Regions from separate parts of the Homo sapiens genome. Here all the other regions are linked to region 1. Evidence: fine-mapped expression QTL. A gene starts in region 1. Each other region holds a variant in brackets. All regions are shown on one strand. Distances are between the middles of the regions. Region 1 holds the start of TP53I3 (tumor protein p53 inducible protein 3). Region 2 overlaps FAM228B (family with sequence similarity 228 member B). Region 3 overlaps UBXN2A (UBX domain protein 2A). Region 4 overlaps WDCP (WD repeat and coiled coil containing).

Region 1 (5,483 bases):
CCCAGGGTCTTTCTGGTGACCAGCTCATCCTGAAGCTATCTAGGGCCCCCACCCTAAGTCATATTAGCATAAACTCGAGTGTGCTTATAAGGGTTTGTTATTAATATAAAAAGTCACTTCTATCACATACGAAATTCCAAGGGTTTTAGGAGCTCTGCAGGAGAACAAAATATAATAAAAGATACTTATTGGCCAGGCAGAGTGGCTCATGCCTATAATTCCAGTACTTTACAGGCTGAGGTGGGAGAATTGCTTGAGTCCAGGAGTTCATGATCAGCCTGGGCAACGTAGCAAGACCGTATATCTAGTTAAAAACAAAAGAAAGAAAGAGATGTTTATTCAGCAAATAACAAAGGTTTTAGGAGTGCTATTGTAGGAACCCAGGACAAAGACCAAAAATATATATTTCTTATTACACACTGCAAGATTACATCGACCAAGGGCTCACTAAGATAAAATCTTAGGCACTTTCAACTACTAGTTTTACTGGGATACTTTAGTATACTTAGTGGTTGGTATTATTAGATTTTTTTTAAAGTTACTCCTTGCATCTTAAAAGTTCTTATTTAGCACTTACATTACACATTCCTCATCTATCTTAATCCATTCCATTTTCTTAATCCAATCAGTTTTAGTGTCGATTTTTGCAAAGTTTGTTATTTACAACTATTTCCTTTCCATCTGTCTCTGTTCTAGGATATTTATTTGGTTCAAACCTTTCCTCGATTTTGGACAGATGTGTATCCGGATGATGTGTCTCTGAATCCTTATACATCCTCAGACATGTTTTTTGCCCTAACAAGTGAATTATATCTTAATGGGGTATATTGAGTTACAGTGCTTTTCTTCTAGTCAATAGACGCTAGTCTACTCTCTTCTAGCTTCCAGATTGCAGATAGAAACTTGCTGGGCACAGTGGCTCATACTTGTAATCCTAGCACTTTGGGAGGCTGAGGCAGGAGGATTGCTTGAGTCCAGGAGTTTGAGACCAGCCTGGGCAACATAATGAGACCCCTACACTACAAAAAAGAGAGAGAGAGAAAGAGGGGGTGGGGAAGGAGGGAAGGAAGGAAGGAGGGAGGGAGGGAGAGAAGGAAGCCATTTTTTTTAACCAATTGTGAGTAACTTATTCTTTCCACACTTGTTAGAACCTGAAATTTTATAAAATATAGGCATGCATTTTTGTTCTTATGAATCCATCCTTTAGTGAATGTTTTCAATCCGTATAATCTGGTAGAATTTAGGAAAACTGTATTCTTTTATTTGGTTAACTATTGAATCTTCTTCATCCATTCCTCTTCCTCCTTCTAAAATTCCTTTTTTTTTTTTTTTTTTGAGACGGAGTCTCACTCTGTCGTCCAGGCTGGAGTGCAGTGGTGCGATCTCGGCTCACTGCAAGCTCCCCCTCCCGGGTTCACGCCATTCTCCTGCCTCAGCCTCCCGAATAGCTGGGACTACAGGCGCCCGCCACCACGCCCGGCTAATTTTTTGTATTTTTAGTAGAGACGGGGTTTCACCGTGTTAGCCAGGATGGTCTCGATCTCCTGACCTCGTGATCCGCCCGCCTTGGCCTCCCAAAGTTCTGGGATTACAGGCGTGAGCCACCGCGCCCGGCCTAAAATTCCTGTTATTCTCATAGCAGGGTCTCCTGAATTTTTCCTTAAGTCCCATCATTTTATTATTTCCATCTCTATAGGCTTTTGCTCTGTTGTGTTAAAGAAATAATTATTCAATGATACTTGTTAAAGCACATTAAGGAAGACTTTATTTAGCACCATCGCTACAGGTTTAGGGACCACTGCAATGAGTTCTTGCAGTGGAGGAGACAGGTTGGGATCAACTCTGAATGCATCACGGACAAGTGGGAATGTATAGCCAAGGAGCAGTGTAGGGGGTCAGTGGATGGAAAATTGGTAAGAGGCATCAGGGGTAAGGGGGATTCTATCTAAACTGACCTAACAGGATTCTCACTGAAGACAGGCCAGGGTGGTCGGATATCACTTGGGGGATGGTGGAGGATGAGATATTGAGGGTGATCAGATGTCAAGGATGGGAGGTTCTTACTAAAACAGGAATTTACAAGGAGTGCTACGGATATGTAGTGGGGGGAGGCCAGGGATGCTGCTAAACATCCTACGATGCACAGGACGATCTCCTACAATAACGAACTAGCTAGTCCAAAATGTCAATAGCGCCGAGATTGAGAAACCTTCATGTAGCTTACGGATACAGCTTTTACCCAATCGCCAGCATCCTTCTCCTGGGGCTGAACCTCTCCCCCAGGACTGTCAGGAGGAGGCGAGTGATAAGGATCCCAGGACTGCGTTTTGCCTTCCTTCCCCACCCCCACTCCCAACGGCTCCTTTCTCTTCTCTTAGCAGCACCCAGCTTGCCCACCCATGCTCAAGATGGGCGGGATGCCAGCCTGTTACATAAATGTGCCAAAAGCCTGGCCATGCCTGGAAAATGGACCAATCCGCCCGCCAAGAGGTTGGGTCTCGTTCCCTAGAGAGAAGGAAGTTTCCTCTCCTTGAAGTGAGAGCTAGAATCGCACTTTCTGTCAAGCTGAGAGAAAGACTCTTTTCCAGAGGCTAAAAGGACAAGAAAATCTGATTTGCTTGCTTCTAACTTTGCGTTTTAAAGGGGGAAGGAGGAAAGGAAAGAGGGGGAGGGTGGTTCTGCTTAGCCCCACCCCTCCGGCTACCCCAGGTCCAGCCGTCCATTCCGGTGGAGGCAGAGGCAGTCCTGGGGCTCTGGGGCTCGGGCTTTGTCACCGGGACCCGCAGGAGCCAGAACCACTCGGCGCCGCCTGGTGCATGGGAGGGGAGCCGGGCCAGGAGTAAGTAACTCATACGGGCGCCGGGGACCCGGGTCGGGCTGGGGGCTTCCAACTCAGAGGGAGTGTGATTTGCCTGATCCTCTTCGGCGTTGTCCTGCTCTGCCGCATCCAGCCCTGTACCGCCATCCCACTTCCCGCCGTTCCCATCTGTGTTCCGGGTGGGATCGGTCTGGAGGCGGCCGAGGACTTCCCAGGCAGGAGCTCGGGGCGGAGGCCGGGTCCGCGGCAGACCAGGGCAGCGAGGCGCTGGCCGGCAGGGGGCGCTGCGGTGCCAGCCTGAGGCTGGGCTGCTCCGCGAGGATACAGCGGCCCCTGCCCTGTCCTGTCCTGCCCTGCCCTGTCCTGTCCTGCCCTGCCCTGCCCTGTCCTGTCCTGCCCTGCCCTGCCCTGTGTCCTCAGACAATATGTTAGCCGTGCACTTTGACAAGCCGGGAGGACCGGAAAACCTCTACGTGAAGGAGGTGGCCAAGCCGAGCCCGGGGGAGGGTGAAGTCCTCCTGAAGGTGGCGGCCAGCGCCCTGAACCGGGCGGACTTAATGCAGGTACCCAGGGCTCAGCCGCGCCGGGGCGGGCGGGACTCCAGAGCCTCCCTCTCAACAGCACTCAGTGGACATTGACCAGACGTGAAGGCGTGCACCGCTCCACACCCAGCAGGCAGCTGCGCTGGGGCTTCCCAGACCTAAACCCAGGGCGCCCTCTTTGTTCATGCAAAACAAGGGGGAGTACTTGTAAAGCAGAATCCACCCCGAGCTAATCCATAGCCACTCAGGCCTCCAGATGAGGGCGGAACTAACATTGTTGTGGGGTGTGGGCACACTTACTCCCCAGGCTACCCTGTTCGCCATCTTAATTCTACAGATAAGGAAACTGAAGTTCAGTGAGGTTAAGCAGTACGCCCAAGGCCGTGACACTAGCAATCAGAAGAGCTGGGATTCAAGCTGAGGTCTTTGTGGCTCCAAAGACCTCTTAACTCTTTCCACTCTGAGAGTCCCGGAGCTGACAGCGGGCAGTACTCTTAAGAATTTTCTTCTGTCTGATGCTGATTTACTGACCTGGGCCAGCTGCATTGGTTGGGGTCATTCAGAAATGTGCATCAGAATCCCCCGGGGCACAAAAGAAACGTGATGGGGGCCCAGGCACGTGTACTTTGAAATACTCCTCAGGTGGTTCTGCCACACACTCCTGGTTAAGTCCCTCTGCTCTACAGCTTCTGAGGACTGGGGTGAGTGAGCACAGAGCCTAGCGCTTGATGCATGGGAACCATCGTCAAGGTTCCTAATCCCACTACTATTATTTCCCGTCTGGGACTCAGTTTCTCCATCTGTAAAGCAAGGGGTTCAGATGAGGTAAATAGCTAAGGACTCTACCAGTTATAACATCCACTGATCATGTGACCTCCAGTTTATTTGCATAAAACTAATGGCCTCTCCTTTTTCTTCTCCTTACTTACAAAAACCTGACTTCATTCTGAAATTTATTTTTGAAAAAAAAAAGAGGGGATCTTGGAAGGGGGGCCAGGGGTAGTGACATACAGATTTCTGATCATGCTCACCACTTAGTGCACTTCTTTCTCTGCAGAGACAAGGCCAGTATGACCCACCTCCAGGAGCCAGCAACATTTTGGGACTTGAGGCATCTGGACATGTGGCAGAGCTGGGGCCTGGCTGCCAGGGACACTGGAAGATCGGGGACACAGCCATGGCTCTGCTCCCCGGTGGGGGCCAGGCTCAGTACGTCACTGTCCCCGAAGGGCTCCTCATGCCTATCCCAGAGGGATTGACCCTGACCCAGGCTGCAGCCATCCCAGAGGCCTGGCTCACCGCCTTCCAGCTGTTACATCTTGTGGGTGAGGAGGCCTCCATGCTCACTCCACACAATGTGGCTCAACACCTTCATAAATCAGCCAACTTGAATCCCAGCAATCCCCCAGGGCACTCCCAGGCCTTCCTGTATCACCTGTATTGTCAGGTCCTCAAACCATGTTAGAAGGGTTTAATGTTGAGGCTGAGAATCATGGTTAGCAGATAGAGGGTCTGGATAACACTAGATAGGAGGCCTATGTACATGTTAACACCGGACGCCCAGCAGAAGTCCCAGCTTCTTAGAATCATACTGAGCTTCTCTCTGGGGTCCCAGTGCAACAGAAGGGACCAATTGACTCATTTATTCCTCCTCAATCCCACAGAGGCCAGTCAAGAACTCACATAAGGGAATCTAAGAAGACTTGGTCCTTGCCTTTAGACAGTGCAGTGTAACTGAGAAGGCAACATATGCATAAGATCAGATGACCATAGAGTTTAGAAGGATAGCCCTGTCTATGATAGAAGCTGGAGATGAGTAAAGATGGTGTGGACAAGGGTAGTCAGAAGGCTTTTTGGAAGGCTTTGAAGGGTGGGTAGACTTGTGAAGGACATAAGGCATGCCAAGGTGGCCTAAGAAAGAGTATCAGCCAGGCAAGGTGGCTCACACCTATAATCGTAGCACTTTGGAAGACAGATCACGAGCCCAGGAGTTCAAGATCAGCCTGGGCAACATGGCGAAACCCTGTTTCTACAAAAAATACAAAAATTAACCAGGCATGATGGTGCATGCCTGTTGTCTCAGTTACTCAGGAGGCTGAGTTGGGAGGATCACCTGAGCCCAG
Region 2 (5,483 bases), 51 kb before region 1:
ACCTGTAATCCCAGCACTTTGGGAGGCCGAGGCAGGCAGATTACCTGAAATAGGGAGTTCGAGACCAGCCTGACCAACATGGAGAAACCCTGTCTCTACTAAAAATACAAAATTAGCCAGTGTGGTGGCACATGCCTGTAATTCCAGCTACTTGGGAGGCTAAGGCAGGAGAATTGCTTGAAGCCGTGAGGTGGAGGTTTGCAGTGAGCCAAGATCGTGCCATTGCACTCCAGTCTGGGTGACAAGAGTGAAACTCCATCTCGAATAATAATAATAATAACCACATGGGGAAAACACAGAAAAATGGTTCTAATGTAGACAATTAAATCTAATCTTCCTTTTCTCTCCTTTCCAAATGTCCTGGGTTTAAGAATACTTTATGCTATTATGTAACAGGGTATAGATGATACATATGTAGAGGGGACAGGGACAGACTGACTGAATGATTATAAATGAACAAAGATGACATTAGGTCTAAATCAACTGAAAAAAGCATCAAATGATCTCTTAGTACCTTTTTATTTACATGTTTTAAAAAGCCATCTAATTCCCCTTGCCTCCTTTTTTTAATCTTCTTATGTGAGCAAACTTTTTCTATAATTTTCTTCTGAAGAGGATCTGCCACACAGTCAACCCATCTTTTATATAACATCTCCTTTCTTCTTGCATTTAAGAAGGCATGATGTTGTAAATACTTATCTAGTTCCTAGTAAACAGTGGTAGAAAAGACAAATATATTATCCTAAAGCTTTCTTGTTCTAAAATTTTCCAAAACTTAAACTTCATAAGTTTAAATTACTCCTAAGAATAACCCACAGAGACATTCATTAATTCAATCGTTTCTTTGGCTTTAACTTCTACTATGTGACATACACTCTGCTGCAAACAAGGAAAACACAGGTATTTGGGGCAACATGCCTGCTCTCCCTGGGGAGAAAGACTAAAGAACAAATCAAAAGCAAGGCAAGGTGGCGCCTGCCTATATTTCCAGCTACCTGGGAGGGTGAAGCTAGAGAATCACTTGAGCCCAGGACTTCAAGGATGCAGTACACCATGACTGGGACACTGCACTCTAGCCTGGGTAACAGAGTGAAAACCCATCCCTAAGAAACAAACAAACAAAATCACAAACAGTGGGAGGGGGAATATAGCAAGATGTATATTTATATATGATGGATATATGTATGGCATACTATAAATAAAATAACTGAAGACAGAGGAGAGAAAAACCATTTGCTAGATTCTTAAAAGATTCCCAGTTTGGTGGGCCTCAGAAATTTAAACAGACCTACCATAAGACCCAACAATTCCACTCCTACCCAAATGAATGAAAATCCAGGCTCAAATAGATACTTGTACACCAATGTTCATTGCGGCATTATTCACAATAGCCAAAAGGTGGAAACGATCCAAGTATCCATCAAGAGATGAACAGATAAAATGTGGTATATACATACCACATTTATTTATATGTGTAATATGGAATATTATTCAGCCACAAAAAGGAATGAAGTTCTGAAACATGCTACAACATGGATGTACTTTGAAAAGAGTATGCCAAAGTGAAATAAGTCAGACACAAATGGACAAATAGTACAGGATTCCACATATACGAACTATCTGGAATAGCCAAAATTCATAGAGCCAGAAGGTAGATTAGAGGTTACCAAGTGCCTGGGGGAGGGAGAAATGAGGAGTCACTGCTTATTGAATACAAACTGTCAGTTTGGAGTAAGGAAAAAGTTTTGGAAATAGTGGTGATGGTTGCACAACATTATGAATGTGATTAATGACACCGAATGGTACACTTAAAATGGTTAAAATGGCAAATTTTATATTGTGTATATTTACTTTTATATCGCATACACTGAAAAAAATGATTAATTTTTTTTCAAAGCCAAGACTCCCAAAGTGGGAGACATTTGGGCTGGGCCTTTAAGAATGAGGATTTACACTAGGTGCGGTGGCTCACGCCGGTAATCCTAGCATTTCAGGAGGCCAAGGCAGGAGGATCACATGAGCCCAGGAATTCAAGTCTAGCCTGGGGAAAATAGTCAGACTCCGTCTCTACAAAAAAATTAAAACTTGGCCAGGCGTAGTGGCAATCCCACGCCTGTAATCCCAGCACTTTGGGAGGCCGAGGTGGGCAGATCACTTGAAGTAAGGAGTGTGAGACCAGCCTGGCCAATGTGGTGAAACCACGTCTCTACTAAAAATACAAAAGTTAGCCGGGCATGCTGGCACGTGCCTATAATCCCAGCTACTTGGGAGGTTGAGGCAGAATTGCTTGAACCCGGGAGGTGGAAGTTGCAGTGAGCCGAGATCATACCATTGCACTCCAGCCTGGGCAAAGAAGTAAGACTCCGTTTCAAAAAAAAATTAAAACTTAGCTAGGCTCCGTGGCTCACACCTGTAATCCCAACTAATTGGGAGGCTGAGGCAGGAGAATCACTTGAGCCCAGGAGGCCAAGGCTGCAGAGAGCTGTAATTGTGCCACTGCACTCTAGCCTGGGTGACAGAGTGAGACCCTGTCTCAAAAAAAAAAAAAAAAAAAAAAAAAAGAAGGGTTATCCAGGAAGAGAAGGGATGGCAGAAAAAGAGGAAGAAAAACATTCTATGGAAAAAAAAAAAAAAAAAACCCTTCACTATAACTGACCTTCAGAAAAAAAAAAAGGCAAGAGTAAAGAGGCAGAAGTGTGGCATAACCTAATCCAAGTGGCAAGTAGCCTGCAAAGATGATGCTTGATTAGGCTACAAACTAATTCATTCTCACTAAACCTTCTCATTCACCTTTCATATAGCAAATAAAGTCATGTGACTACTAGGAAGAGC[G/A]TGAAATTCAAAATGAAATAAATAAAATATTAAGAACCCTGAGAGGTCTGCTAGGCCGAGTCCCTCCCTAACCTCTGGCCATAGCACACTTCAGCCATTCCCAATGTTAGTTCCTTTCCTTTTTAAAGAGCTCTAAAGAAATTTCTTAAAAATAAAAACAGGTTACCCACTCCAGTGTCCCTGGTGTTTAGTACACTTCACATGGATGTTCTTCTTGTCACATTAAGCCCATCCTGGCTCAGTTAAACCCTGTTCTATGTATATCTGAGTAATAATTAGTCAGTGTGTTCTGCTAACAGCTCTTAAGGGTTAGCTCATTTATAGTGACTGCTGAAACCCACTAAGACAAAGAAACAAGTGAGTAGAGGAAAATTTCTGTGCCTCTCTGCAAAGGAATTCCCACAAAGTATAGGAAGGGAGGAAGTCCATTAGAGCAATTTCAGAGATCCCTTAAGGTTAATTCCAGGTGCAAGGGAGTGTTCTTTTAATTCTTTTTTCCATATTTTCTAAATAGTTTTTATAGAATATGCTACATATAAAAAGGAAAAACTACATTTAATTTTTAACTGAGATGCATTTTGTAGCCAATTCTTACCTTAATTACAGAATTTTCTTTGTATAATATTGATTGAATAGCTGCCTCAGTATCTTCTTTAGCTAAAACCTGAAAGGACAGAATTAAACTTTGAAAAGAAAATCTTTAAAAACTATTAGTGCTATCTGGAATCATTATATTTAGCATGACAGACATATCCCTGGAAAGTTCTCTATGCATGCAGTTTGTTTCCTCCAAATCATATCATCGAGTGCTTTTTTTTGTTTGTTTCTTTGAGACAGAGTCTTGTTCTGTCGCCTAGGCTGCTGGAGTGCACCAGCACCATCTCGGCTCACTACAACCTCCACTTCCAGGGTTCAAGCGATTCTTGTGCCTCAGCCTCCCAAGTAGCTGGGATTACAGGTGTGCAACACATGCCTGACTAATTTTTGTGTTTTTGATAGAGACGGGGTTTTGCCATGTTGGCCTCGCTGGTCTCAAACTCCTGGCCTCAAGTGATCTGCCTGCCTCAGCCTCCCAAAGTGCTGGGATTACAGGCCTGAGCCACTGTGCCCAGCCCATCAAGTGCTTTTTAAACAGTATTTCGATCTGTCTGCTCTTGGCTACACCAAAATATAACTCAGCTCACAGACACTTTGAGTCCCAAAATGTTCAAATGTCTTTTCCAGAGTCACATGGTAGTTACAATCCATCTTTTTTCACTTCCTATAAAATGCTTTTACTTTTCTGGGTTAAAATAGATTAAATTAGGCCTCTATTTGAGGCTTTTTGACTATGCAAGACATACTAATCTTCCAGCCTTGATTCTTACAGAACTAGTTAAGAATATGTCAACAGTTTCACTAAAAGCTTAGTGCCACCTAAGGCAAACTCTATACATAGAAGAAATGTCACTAGTGAACAATAATACAAGGTCTTAGAAAGACTTTCTATTCAATCTCCTGTTCTTTTTCGTGTTCTTCCATAATGAATTCACCCACTAATTTTGTTTTTGAAAATTACTGAAACATAAGCCTATGGATATAATAAATCAAGGAAATGAGTTATATTTTTATCCATTAACTCACAACTGTCTATAAAATGTAAAATTATAATTAAACAAGTAATTAGATCTTCTCAAAATGAAAGCTCTTATTAAAATAAAAGGAAACATATTCATTTAATTTTTCCATGACAATTGACAAATTACCCAAAAGACTGAAACAAATTTCTTAGACAGTATTGACATAAATATAATTGGAACAAATTTATTTATCATTAGTGAATATGGCTATCAAATAAATATTAATAAATTTTATTTTTAATGTACTTATTTTGGAGACAGTCTTGCTCTGTCACTTAGGCTAGAGTGTAGTAGTATGATCATAGCGCACTGTACCCTCAAACTCCTGAGCTCAAGCAATGCTTCTACCTCAGCCTCCCAAAGTGCTAGGATTACAAGCATGAGCCACCATCATGCCCAGTCAAATCCTATTTTTATATACAAGTCACATTTTCAGATTTTGAAATAACACAATCTTTAGGGAACAGTGATATTAGTGACAAAATTATGACAGCATTAATTTTTCCATTTTTATAACAAATGTTCCACAATTATTAAATACCTGCCAGAAAATGGAAGCAGTTGATTTCTAGCACAGAATTGCCTTTGAGATCCTCATGTAATTACATACAAATAAAATATTCTCAAGTTAACTGTCAGTGAAAGTAGTTGTCTTCAGTCCCACTGCTTTTATTTCCAGGACAGATGAGTAAAATCTCATTATCTAAGAACTGTCCTTCCCCATTAACATCCAAAGAAGCCAAGGCTCATGGGAGCTAAGCAACAACTAGAAGCATAGAAAACTCAAATGAGTCTACTCTAGTTTGTTTTCTTTGTTATTTTTGCCTCATAGAGTTGCCCTTCCTGGAAAGTCTGTACTCAGATAGGGGGTAGTGAATTAACATTCCAGATAAAAAATATAAAAAACAACAACCTGAAGACACTGGAGAGTGATCAAAAAGCAGGAAGTTACTGAATGCTATTCAACACCAAGAAAAAAAAACAGCACTAGATGAATTTCCAGTTTTTTATTAACTTGCCTGAGAAAGGGCC
Region 3 (5,483 bases), 130 kb after region 1:
GGCTGTGTGTGGTAGCTCACACCTGTAATACCAACACTTTGGGAGGCCAAGGCAGGTAGATCACAAGGTCAGGAGTTCAAGACTAGCCTGGCCAACATGGTGAAACCCGTCTCTACTAAAGACACAAAAAATTAGCCAGGCGTGGTAGCACGCACCTGTAATCCCAGCTACTCAGGAGGCTGAGGCAGAAGAACTGCTTGAACCCGGGAGGTGGAGATTGTGGTGAGCTGACATCGCGCCATTGCACTCCAGCCTGGGCGACAGGGAAAGACTCTGTCTCAAAAAAATAAATAAATAAAAATAAAAAATAAATTAGCCCGGCACGGTGGCATATGCCTGTAGTCCCAGCTACTCCGGAGGCTGAGATGGGATGATCGCTTGAGCCCAGGAAGTTGAGGCTGCAGCGACCTGTGATCATTCTACTACATTCCAGCTTGGGCAACAGAGGGAGACCGTCTTAAAAAACAAAACCCAGCAGCCGGGTGTGATGGCTCACGCCTGTAATCCCAGCACTTTGGGCGGCCAAGGCAGGTGGATCACCTGAGGTCAGGAGTTTGAGACCAGCCTGGCCAACATGGTCAAACCCCATCTCTACTAAAAATACAAAAATTAGGCGGGTGTGATGGCGAGCGCTTGTAGTCCCAGCTACTTGAGAGGCTGAAGCAGGAGAATTGCTTGAACACAGGAGGCAGAAGTTGCAGTGAGCCGAGATCATACCACTGCACTCCAGCCTGGGTGACAGAGTGAGACTCTGTCTCAAAAAAAAAAAAAAAAAGGAAAAAAACTTCAGGAAATCATAACTCTATGCCCATTAACGTTTTCTCATAAGATTTCTTCCTTCAAACGTAGTATTCCTAAAATTAATTGCTTCACTTTAAAAATGTCTACATATTTCAAACATACACAAAGGAAAGAGAAAAATATAAACACCCACCCTGACCATTCAGATCAGCTTGACTCATTTGTTTCTTTTTTAAGAAATAAAATGGTACAGTGACTCATGCCTGTAATCCCAGCTCTCTGGGAGGCCCAGGCAGGGGGATCACTTCAGGCCAGGAGTTCGAGACCAGCTTGGTCAACATGGTGAAACCCCGTCTCTACTAAAAACACAAAAATTAGCTGGGCATGGTGGCAGGTGCCTGTAATCCCAAGTACTCCAGAGGCTGAGGCAGGAGAATCGCTTGAACCTTGGAGGCAGAGGTTCTGGTGAGCCAAGCTCGCACCACTGCACTTCAGCCTGGGTGACAAGAGCAAAACTGTCTCAAAATGAAACAAAACTATATATATATATATATATATATATATATATATATATATATATATATATATCCATCTTACTGTATATCAATTATAATGATGGAAAGTTGTTAAAAATAACTAAAGTGTATACTTATTCAGCACCTACTATATATCAGACATGAATGATTCTAGGTGCTTGGGATACATATTGAACAAAATAGATAAAGATCCCAGCTCTTTTGGACATTATAATCTGGTGGGGCTGTTTGTTTTTCACTTGGCAGTTCTCCAACATTATTTTCAACTAATTCAAAATAATCTCCTACAGTTAATAATACTGTATGCTTCAAAATAGCAGAAGGAATGGGTTTTAAATGTTCTCACAACAAAGAAATGTTAAGTATTTGAGCTGAGGGGCATGGTAATTAGCCTGATTTGACCATTCCATAATGTACATAAGTACTGAAACACCACAATGTATCCCATAAATATATAAAATTATTGTCAACTAAAAAATAATGAATAGGCCAGGCATGGTGGCTCATGCCTGTAATCCTAGCACTTTGGGAGGCCAATGTGGGTGGATCACCTGAGGTCAGGAGTTCGAGACCAGCCTGGCCAACACGGCGAACCACGCATGGGTGTGGTGGCGCATACCTGTAATCCCAACTACTCGGGAGTCTGAGGCAGGAGAATCGCTTGAACCCGGCGGGTGGAGGTTGCAGTGAGCCAAGATCGTGCCACTTCACTCCAGCCTGGGCGTAAGAGCAAAACTTCATCTCAAAAAATAAAATAAAATAGGCCAGGCGCAGAGGCTCATGCCTGTAATCCGAGCACACTGGAAGACCGAGGTGGGCGGATCACTTGAGGTCAGGAGTTCGAGACCAACCCAGCCAACATGGTGAAACCCCATCTCTACTAAAAATACAAAAAATTAGCCAGGCATGGTGGAGGGCGCCTGTAATCCCAGCTACCAAGAGGCTGAGGTGGGAGAATTGCTGGAACCCAGGAGTCGGAGGTCGCAGTGAGCCAAGATCATGCCACTGCACTCCAGCGTGGACAACAGAGCGAGAATCCGTCTCAAAAACAGTAATAATAATAATAAAATAAAAATAAAATAAAATATTTCCATAGTTTAGATCTGGTCTTCATTATCTCAAAAGCATAACATGTTCATTCTACTACTTTGTTCACATTGTAATCATCGTCCTAGGCATTCAAATCCTAACTATCCTTTAAGTCCCAGCTCAAGATCCATTTCCACCATAAAGATGAAATATTAGACCCTTAGTAATAGTCTCCTCCTAAGCATTTAGATTTTTGGCATTTAAATCATATTGTGTGATATTGCTTATTACTGTTTCTTTTCACTCTCTTTACCAGATCTGACATCGCTGAGGATAAGTACCATGACTTACACATTTCCTGTATCCTTCACAGTGTGCAGCAAGTGCAAAGCAAAGAGTAGCGATCCTTGGGGTGGGGGTGGGGGTGGGGGTGGGGGGATGATGAGAAATTATTCCAGTGATGGATACATTAAAAGCTCTGACTTTACTACTGTACAATATATCCATGTAACAAAATTATACTTGTACCCCACACATTTATACAAATA[A/T]TTTTTTTTTTTTTGAGACAGAGTCTTGCTCTGTTGCCCAGGCTAGAGTGCAGTGGTGAGGTCTCAGCTTACTGCAACCTCCGCCTCCTAGGTTGAAGTGATTCTTCTGCCTCAGCCTCCCAAGTAGCTGGGATTACTGGCATGTGCCACCATGCCTGGCTAATTTTTGTATTTTTAGTAGAGACAGCGTTTCACCACATTGGCCAGGCTGGTCTCAAACTACTGACCTCAGGTGATCCTCCTGCCTTGGCCTCCCAAAGTGCTAGAATTATAGGCATGGGCAACCACGCCCGGCTATAAATAAACTTATTTTTATTTTTATTATTTATTTATTTATTTTTGAGATGAAGTCTTGCTCTGTTGCCCAGGCTGGAGTGCAACCTCTACCTCCTGGGTTCAAGTGATTCTGCTGCCTCAGCCTCCCGAGTAGCTGGGGACTACAGGCATGTGCCACCACGCCCGGCTAATGTTTTGTATTTTTAGTAGAGACAGGGTTTCGATGTGTTAGCCAGGATGGTCTCCATCTCCTGACCTCATGATCCGCCCACCTCGGCCTCCCACAGTGCTGGGATTACAAGCGTGAGCCACCATGCCTGGCAAATAAATTTCTTCTAAAAGCTACAAGAGGGTTGGGTGTGGTGGCTCATGCCTGTAATCCCGGCACTTTGGGAGGCCAAGGCAGGCGGATCACCTGAGGTTAGGAGTTCAAGACCAGCCTGGCCAACATGGTGAAACTCCGTCTCTACTAAAAATACAAAAAAAAAAAAAAAAAGAAAAAAAAATAGCCAGGCTTGGTAGCACACGCCTGTAGTCCCAGCTACTTGGGAGGCTGAGGCAGGAGAATCACTTGAACCAGGGAGATGGAGGTTGCAGTGAGGGGAGATCACGCCAATGTGCTCTAGTCTGGGTGACAGAGATTCTGTCTCAAAAAAAAAAAAAAAAAGCTACAAGAGAAGTCTTACTTAAAGGATTTCACTGAGTTTCCAGTAATAGGTTATTGTTCTCTAGGAAATTACAAATACTTTTTTCCATCATTTTACAGTTATAAGGTACTGACAAATTGCTTTTACTTGTTTTATGACAGCAAAAGAGAATGAAGATAGAATAGACCTCAAATTCAAACTGAGTTTTACTGGAATACTGGCTACATCACTTTTGAGCTAGGTGACCTTGTATATGTTATTTAGCTTCTCTGAGTCCCAGCTGCCTAACTTATAGCATGGACATAATTATCCCCCTCAGGTTGTTCTGAGGACTGAAGATACTAAGAATACAACAGTGTTATACTCCTTTTTCTTTCCTCATCCCCCACCATAATCTGTTATAGAGATTGGTAAGAAACATCTTCAAGCTCACGCCTGTAATCCCAGCACTTTGGGAGGCCGAGGTGGGCAGATCGCCTGAGATCAGGAGTTTGAGACCAGCCTGGCTAACATGGTGAAACCCTGTCTCTACTAAAAACACAAAAATTAGCCAGGCATGGTGGCGCATGCCTGTAATCCCAGCTACTTGGGAGGCTGAGGCAGGAGAATCACTTGAATTGGGAGGTGGAGGTTGCAGTGAGCCGAGATCACGCCACTGCACTCTAGCCTGGGCAACAAGAGTGAGACTCTGTCTCAAAAAAAAAAAAAAAAGAAAAAGAAAAAGAAACATCTTCAGACTTAATCTAAAAAGTCCTAATTTTGACATGATTATGAAATTTTACTTTTGATTTCACGAATTAAACTTTTTAAAAGCCCGGCACAGTTGCTCACGCCTGTAATCCCAGCACTCTGGGAGGCTGAGGCGGGCGGATCACCTCAGGCCAGGAGTTCTAGACCAGCCTGGCCAACATGATGAAACCCTGTCTCTATTAAAAACACAAAAATTAGCCGTGCATGGTGGTGGGCACCTGTAATCTCAGCTACTTGGGAGGCTGAGGCAGGAGAATCACTTGAAGCTGGGAGGAGGAGGTTGCAGGGAGCTGAGCCCCCGCCATTGCACTCCAGCCTGGGCAACAAGAGCAAAACTCCATCTCAAAAAAACAAAAACTTAAAAAAAAATGTTTTATATACTTATTGAACCACCCACCAATGTGTGCAAGCCACTGATTTAAAACTAATGACAAAAGTGTCAGTATCAGTATGACAGTTTCTAGTAGCACAATTTTATGGACTAATAAGGAAAAAACAAACTGAATTACTAATTGTAAGCATGGCATAGAATTATGATGTAAAAATTAATTTTAACATGGAGACACCACAAAGTCACCATTACCGCAGTCATTTTCTATCATAAATTTAGTAACATGCAAATGAACCAACTAAAATTTATTTATATCAATTGAGTGAGCTGCTACAAATGTATCACAGTCATATGACATGAATGAACCTAAGTCATGTACTATACTGCAGAGAATAAAAAAAGCCATCTGACAAATATCCAAGTTATCAGCATAAAGTTGGCACAAGAATGAACAGATGAAAAGAACTGCCTTCATTTTTCTTCGGTCTACTTCCAACTATCACCATCATCTTACATTGATATAGCATATCACAGTTTACCGAACATCTTCTCAAATACTATCCCAAAAAGTGCAGTGATGAAATCAATCAGGAGACAGAGAAGACTGAGTTTTATGGAACATGTC
Region 4 (5,483 bases), 43 kb after region 1:
ACTTGAATATATGCTGGTTCCCCCAAGATTCCAAATTCCTCAGCATGCCCTTTATGATCAGAGAATAAACTTAGAAAGATATATCAATATCTGATAATATAAGGTTTTAATTGCCTTGTTAAGACATTTTGAGGCTTTTTATATACTGTAGATGTGGGGATTCATCAAGGGTGTTTATGCAGAAGAGCAAAATGATCACCGCTGTGCTTTTTTTTTTTTTTTTTTTTTTTTAAAGATAATTCTGCCCAACAACACATAGTATGCAGGCTCATTTGGAAAGTAGAGACTGGTATCAAGGGGACCTCTCCTTGTTTTACCCTAATAAAAAGGGAGAAGTCAGAACCTGGGCTAACACAGGAGTAGAAAGGAATGGAGCAGATTTTTGTAATTATCACTGCGTTTTTGAGAAAAATGTGCCACATTTCTTCTTGTTACCGAAGATGACAATATTAAAATTCATTCTTCTAAAAACCTCAGTAAACTGGCCCATGCAGTGGCTCACGCCTGTAATCCTAGCACTTTGGGAGGCCAAGGCAGGAGGATCACTTGAGGTCAGGAGTTCAAGACCAGCCTGGCCAACATGGTGAAACCCAGTCTCTACTAAAAATATAAAAATTAGCTGGGCATGGTGGTGGGCCCCTATCCCAGTTCCTTGGGAGGCTGAGGCACAAGAATCACTTGAACCCAGGAAGCAGAGGTTGCAGTGAGCCCAGATCATGCCACTGCACTCCAGCCTGGGTAACGGAGCAAGACTGTGCCCCCACGCCCCCCCCAAAAAAAAACCTCAGTAAACTTATGTTTGTTTTTCTCTTATTCCCAAATCCTTGTCTTGTGCTACCCTGGCCACACACACCCTCATTGACATTAGACAGAATTTGGTATCCTAAAATATATAAATCGACTTGGATGTAATTGGCCCATTAGGAATTTTCTCTGCCCATGAAAGTGTATCATGGCATTATTTATCAATAAAATTCTTTTTAAAGTACATAAGTAGATATTAGGGAGAAAACATTATTATCTTTCATAAGACCAGTGGGACAGAGATCACAGTTTTCTTCATTAGTAATGACTGGACTTTTTTCTCCGTTTAGCAAGCCGCTGCAGAACCACTGAATCTGACATCATATATAAAAGCATAATAGACCCTTTTTTTTTTTAAGTGAAAGATCCTAAGAGCAAGGACAAAGCTAGCAAGGAGATATGCGAAATAATTTACAGATAAGCAAATCACCAGGTTGGTAGAGAATACATTTCATTGGATTTAGAGTCTGAAGACAACTTCTCAAGTTCTGCCTTTGACACTTACTCAGTAAAACAAGGCTGAAAAATGTCATTTAGATTCAGTGACAGGGAAGCACTGGTGGCCTGGTGAGAGATGTTTTGGAGAAGAAATTGGAATGGAATTCATTTTAAGTATATTAAGAAGAGAGTGAGTGGTGAAAAATATGAGTACTGCCAGTTTACACAACTATTTGATAACTAATAAGGTTAAACATCACTTTATATATGTTTGTAGATTGTTGGGGGGTTTTTTGTTTTGTTTTGTTTTGTTTTAAGTAGAGACAGTATCTTGCTGTGTTGTCCAGGCTGATCTCTGGTCTCGAACTCCAGGGCTCAAGTGATCCTTCTGCCTTGGCCTCCTAAATTGTTGGGATTACAGGCATGAGCCACTGTGCCTGGCCAACAGTCATTTTGTTTAGTTTTGTTTTTGAGACCGAGTCTCACTCTGTTGTCCAGGCTACAGTGCAGTGGTGCCATCTTGGCTTACCGTAACATCTGCCTCCCAGGTTCAAGCAATTCTCGTGTCTCAGCCTCCCAAGTAGCTGGGATTACAGGAGTGTGCCATCACTCCTGGCTAATTTTTTTGTATTTTTAGTAGAGACGAGGTTTCGCCATGTTGGCCAGGCTGATCTCGAAATCCTGACCTCAGGTGATCCACCCGCCTTGGCCTGCCAAAGTGCTCGGATTAAAGGCATGAGCCACCTGGCCCAGTAATTTTTTTTTTTTTTTTTGAGACGGAGTTTCACTCTTTTTGCCCAGGCTGGAGTGTAATGGCATGATCTCAGCTCACTGCAACCTCCGCCTCCTGGGTTCAAGTGATTCTCCTGCCTCAGCCTCCTGAGTAGCTGGAATTACAGGCATGTGCCACCACGCCCAGCTAATTTTGTATTTTTAGTAGAGACGGGGTTTCTCCATGTTGGTCAGGCTGGTCTCGAACTCCTGATGGTCAGGTGATCTGCCCGCCTCGGCCTCCCAAAATGCTAGGATTACAGGCGTGAGCCGCCGCGCCTGGCTCTGGCCCAGTAATTGTTTTTATACTAAATTTTTTTTTTTTTGAGACAGAGTTTCACTCTTGTTGCCCAGGCTGGAGTGCCATGGCACGATCTCGGCTCACTGCAACCTCCACCTCCCGGGTTCAAGCGATTCTCCTGCCTCAGCCTCCTGAGTAGCTGGGATTACAGGCATGCGCCACCACAGCCAGCTAATTTTTTTTTTTTTTTTTTTTTTTTGAGACGGAGTATTGCTCTGTCACCCAGGCTGGAGTGCAGTGGTGCGATCTCGATTCACTGCAACCTCTGCCTCCAGGGTTCACGCCATTCTCCTGCCTCAGCCTTCCGAGTAGCTGGGACTACAGGCGCCCGCCAACACACCTGGCTAATTTTTGTATTTTTAGTAGAGACAGGGTTTCACCGTGTTAGCCAGGATGGTCTCGATCTCCTGACCTCGTGATCCGCCTGCCTCGGCCTCCCAAAGTGCTGGGATTACAGGCGTGAGCCACTGCGCCCGGCCAATTTTTTGTATTTTTAGTAGAGATGGGGTTTCTCCACGTTGGTCAGGCTGGTTTTGAGCTCCTGACCTCACGTGATCTGCCCTTCTCGGGCTCCCAAAGTGCTGGGATTACAGGCGTGAGCTGCCACACCCAG[G/C]CTTTATACTAAAATTAGTCTTTCTCAGTCTGTGTTTATTATTGCAACATTTTATTCTTATATCCATTATTATATATTTATGTATCCACTGATTGATAGTATTTCAAAATATAATTTTCCTGAGGCAGTTTTTCATTTTACATTAAATAGTATTTTTTATGTTTATATTTCAAAGTGAGTATTCAGGTATTACAGCTTATCCAAATAATGTCCTTATTCTCCCTACTGACTATATGTATCTTTTTTTTTTTTTTTTTTTTTTTGAGACAGAGTTTCACTTTTGTTGCCCAGGCTGGAGTGCAGTGGCGCCATCTGAGCTCACTGCAACCTCCGCCTCCCCTCCCAGGTTCAAGCAATTGTCCAGCCTCAGCCTCCCGAGTAGCTGGGATTACAGGCACCTGCCACCGAGCCCAGCTAATTTTTGTATTTTGAGTAGAGATGGGGTTTCACCATGTTGGCCAGGCTGGTCTCGAACTCCTGACCTCAGGTAATCTGCCTGCCTGGGCCTCCCAAAGTGCTGGGATTACACTTTGGGTGTAATGGGTGTAAGTGCTGGGTGGCTCATGCCTATGAGCCACCATGCCTGGCTACCCCATTTTTTGTTTAAAAGAAAAGCCATAACATGTAAAATCCTATATATCTTTGTGTCTTTCTTTAACATTTTCAGAGGCTAAACACCAAATTGTTAATGATGCTTTTATCAAGGCTTTGAAATGTTGGAAAGGAGGAGGAGCTAAAGGGGCTGGCACTGAGTAGGAGGGAACAGTTTTTTTTTTTTTTTGGAGATAGAGTTTTGCTCCTGTCGCCCAGGCTGAAGTGCAATGGTGCAATTTTGGCTCACTGTAATCTCTACCTCCTGGGTTCAAGTGATTCTCCTGCCTCAGCCTCCTGAGTAGCTGGGATTACAGGCATGCGCCACCATGCCCGGCTAATTTTTGTATTATTATTAGAAACAGGGTTACACCATGTTGGCCAGGCTGGTCTCAAACTCCTGACCTCAGGTGATCCACCCGCCTCAGCCTCCCAAAGTGCTGGGATTACAAGCATGAGCCACCGTGCCCAGCCTAAGCATGTACTTGTTTTTTGTTGTTGTTGTTTCTTTTTTGAGGTGGAGTTTCGCTGTTGTTACCCAGGCTGGAGTGCAATGGCACGATCTCAGCTCACTGTAGCCTCTGCCTCCCCAGTTCAAACGATTCTCCTGCCTCAGCCTTCTAAGTAGCTGGGAGTATAGGCATGCACCACCACACTTGGCTAATTTTGTATTTTTAGTAGAGATGGGGTTTCTGCATGTTGGTCAGGCTGGGATCGAACTCCCAACCTCAGGTGATCCTCCCGTCTCAGCCTCCCAAAGTACTGGGATTATAGGCGTGAGTCACCACGCCCAGCCCTAAGCATATGCTTCTTTAGTGATTCAAATGCCTGGGGGAAAAATATTCAGGGTGAAAAAATGAAGATAATACTTGCCTAACCTACTTTACATTATTTTAAAAGATTATTGTAAGATAAAATGCAATAGGGAATGTGAAAATGTTCTGAAAATTATTAAGTGCTGTTGAATAAGATGAAGTAGAAGTAGAAATAGAAACAGTGATTTTTGAGTGTCATTTCAATAGAGGGATAAAAGCCACTTTGGAAGGATTTGAAATAAGTGCTAATAAAGTCAGAGATGTGCATATCAGTTATTCATTGATTTGGCAGTGAAAGGACGAATAGAAATTAGATGATGGAGGAGACTTTTCTTAAATTTTTAATTGGAAAATTTTCTAACTTAAAAGTTGAAAGTACCATAAATACTAACATAGCCTCAATCTAGACTCTACAATTATTAACATTTTGCTACATTTGTTTTCTTTCTGTGTGTCTATAGAAAATTTGGGTTTTTTTTGTCAAACCATTTGAAAGCACATTGTAGGCATCATGACATTTTACCCCAAGTGCTTCAACATGCTTATTTAAATAATAAGGACCTTGTCCTGCATAACCACAATACCATGTTCACACTTAAGAAAATTAATAACTCTGGCCGGGCGCGGGAGCTCATGCCTATAATCCCAGCACTTTGGGAGGCTGAGGTGGGTGGATTGCCTGAGGTCAGGAGTTTGAGACCAGCCTGGCCAACATAGTGAAACCCCGTCTCTACTAAAAATAAAAAAAAAATTAGCTGGGCCTGGTGGCAGGCACCTGTAATCCCAGCTACTCTGGAGGCTGAGGCAGAAGAATCGCTTGAACCCAGGAGGCAGAGGTTGAAGTGCGCCGAGATTGTGCCATTGCACTTCAGCCTGAGCAACAAGAGTGAGACTCCGTCTCAAAAAAAAAAAGAAGAAAAATAATAACTCTACAATATTTTCTGATATCCATTCCATACTCAGATTTCCCCAGTTCTAAAAATCTTCATTAGGTAGAAGATTTTATTTCTTCAAGATCCAAAGTATATACATTGCATTTGCCTGATAGCTCAGTAGTCTCTTAATTTATAATACTCCCCCTGTCCTTTTGTCTCTCCACATTATTAACCTGGGAAGGGGCTAAGCCGTTGTCTTACCAAATGTCCTACAT

What was found. PIP is the estimated chance that this variant, and not a neighbour inherited with it, causes the effect.
Region 2: its variant is the best candidate, but not a certain one, in a credible set for the expression of TP53I3 in whole blood (INTERVAL, PIP 0.52).
Region 3: its variant is the best candidate, but not a certain one, in a credible set for the expression of TP53I3 in whole blood (INTERVAL, PIP 0.86).
Region 4: its variant is the best candidate, but not a certain one, in a credible set for the expression of TP53I3 in blood mononuclear cells (TOPMed, PIP 0.59).

The regions. Positions count from the first base shown.
Region 1 is chr2:24,082,087-24,087,569 of GRCh38, reverse strand. It overlaps TP53I3 (tumor protein p53 inducible protein 3), which reads left to right and starts at 2,736. Exons shown (of 5, transcript NM_004881.5): 1 at 2,736-3,381; 2 at 4,418-4,685. The coding sequence starts at 3,244. It also overlaps a transcript of FAM228B not described here. RefSeq lists enhancers at 1,951-2,451, 3,199-3,248, 3,399-3,498, 4,094-5,024 and a silencer at 3,009-3,188.
Region 2 is chr2:24,133,132-24,138,614 of GRCh38, reverse strand. It overlaps FAM228B (family with sequence similarity 228 member B), which reads right to left. Exons shown (of 11, transcript NM_001145710.2): 3 at 3,428-3,496; 4 at 515-706. Among named protein-coding and RNA genes, the nearest start is that of FAM228B, 12 kb to the right of the region's middle. The variant G/A (reference allele first, on the strand shown) is at 2,833.
Region 3 is chr2:23,947,260-23,952,742 of GRCh38, reverse strand. All of the region lies in intron 1 of UBXN2A (UBX domain protein 2A), which reads right to left. Among named protein-coding and RNA genes, the nearest start is that of UBXN2A, 9.5 kb to the right of the region's middle. The variant A/T (reference allele first, on the strand shown) is at 2,855.
Region 4 is chr2:24,039,566-24,045,048 of GRCh38, reverse strand. The region is part of intron 1 of WDCP (WD repeat and coiled coil containing); the gene reads left to right. It also overlaps a transcript of FKBP1B not described here. Among named protein-coding and RNA genes, the nearest start is that of WDCP, 5.1 kb to the left of the region's middle. The variant G/C (reference allele first, on the strand shown) is at 2,928.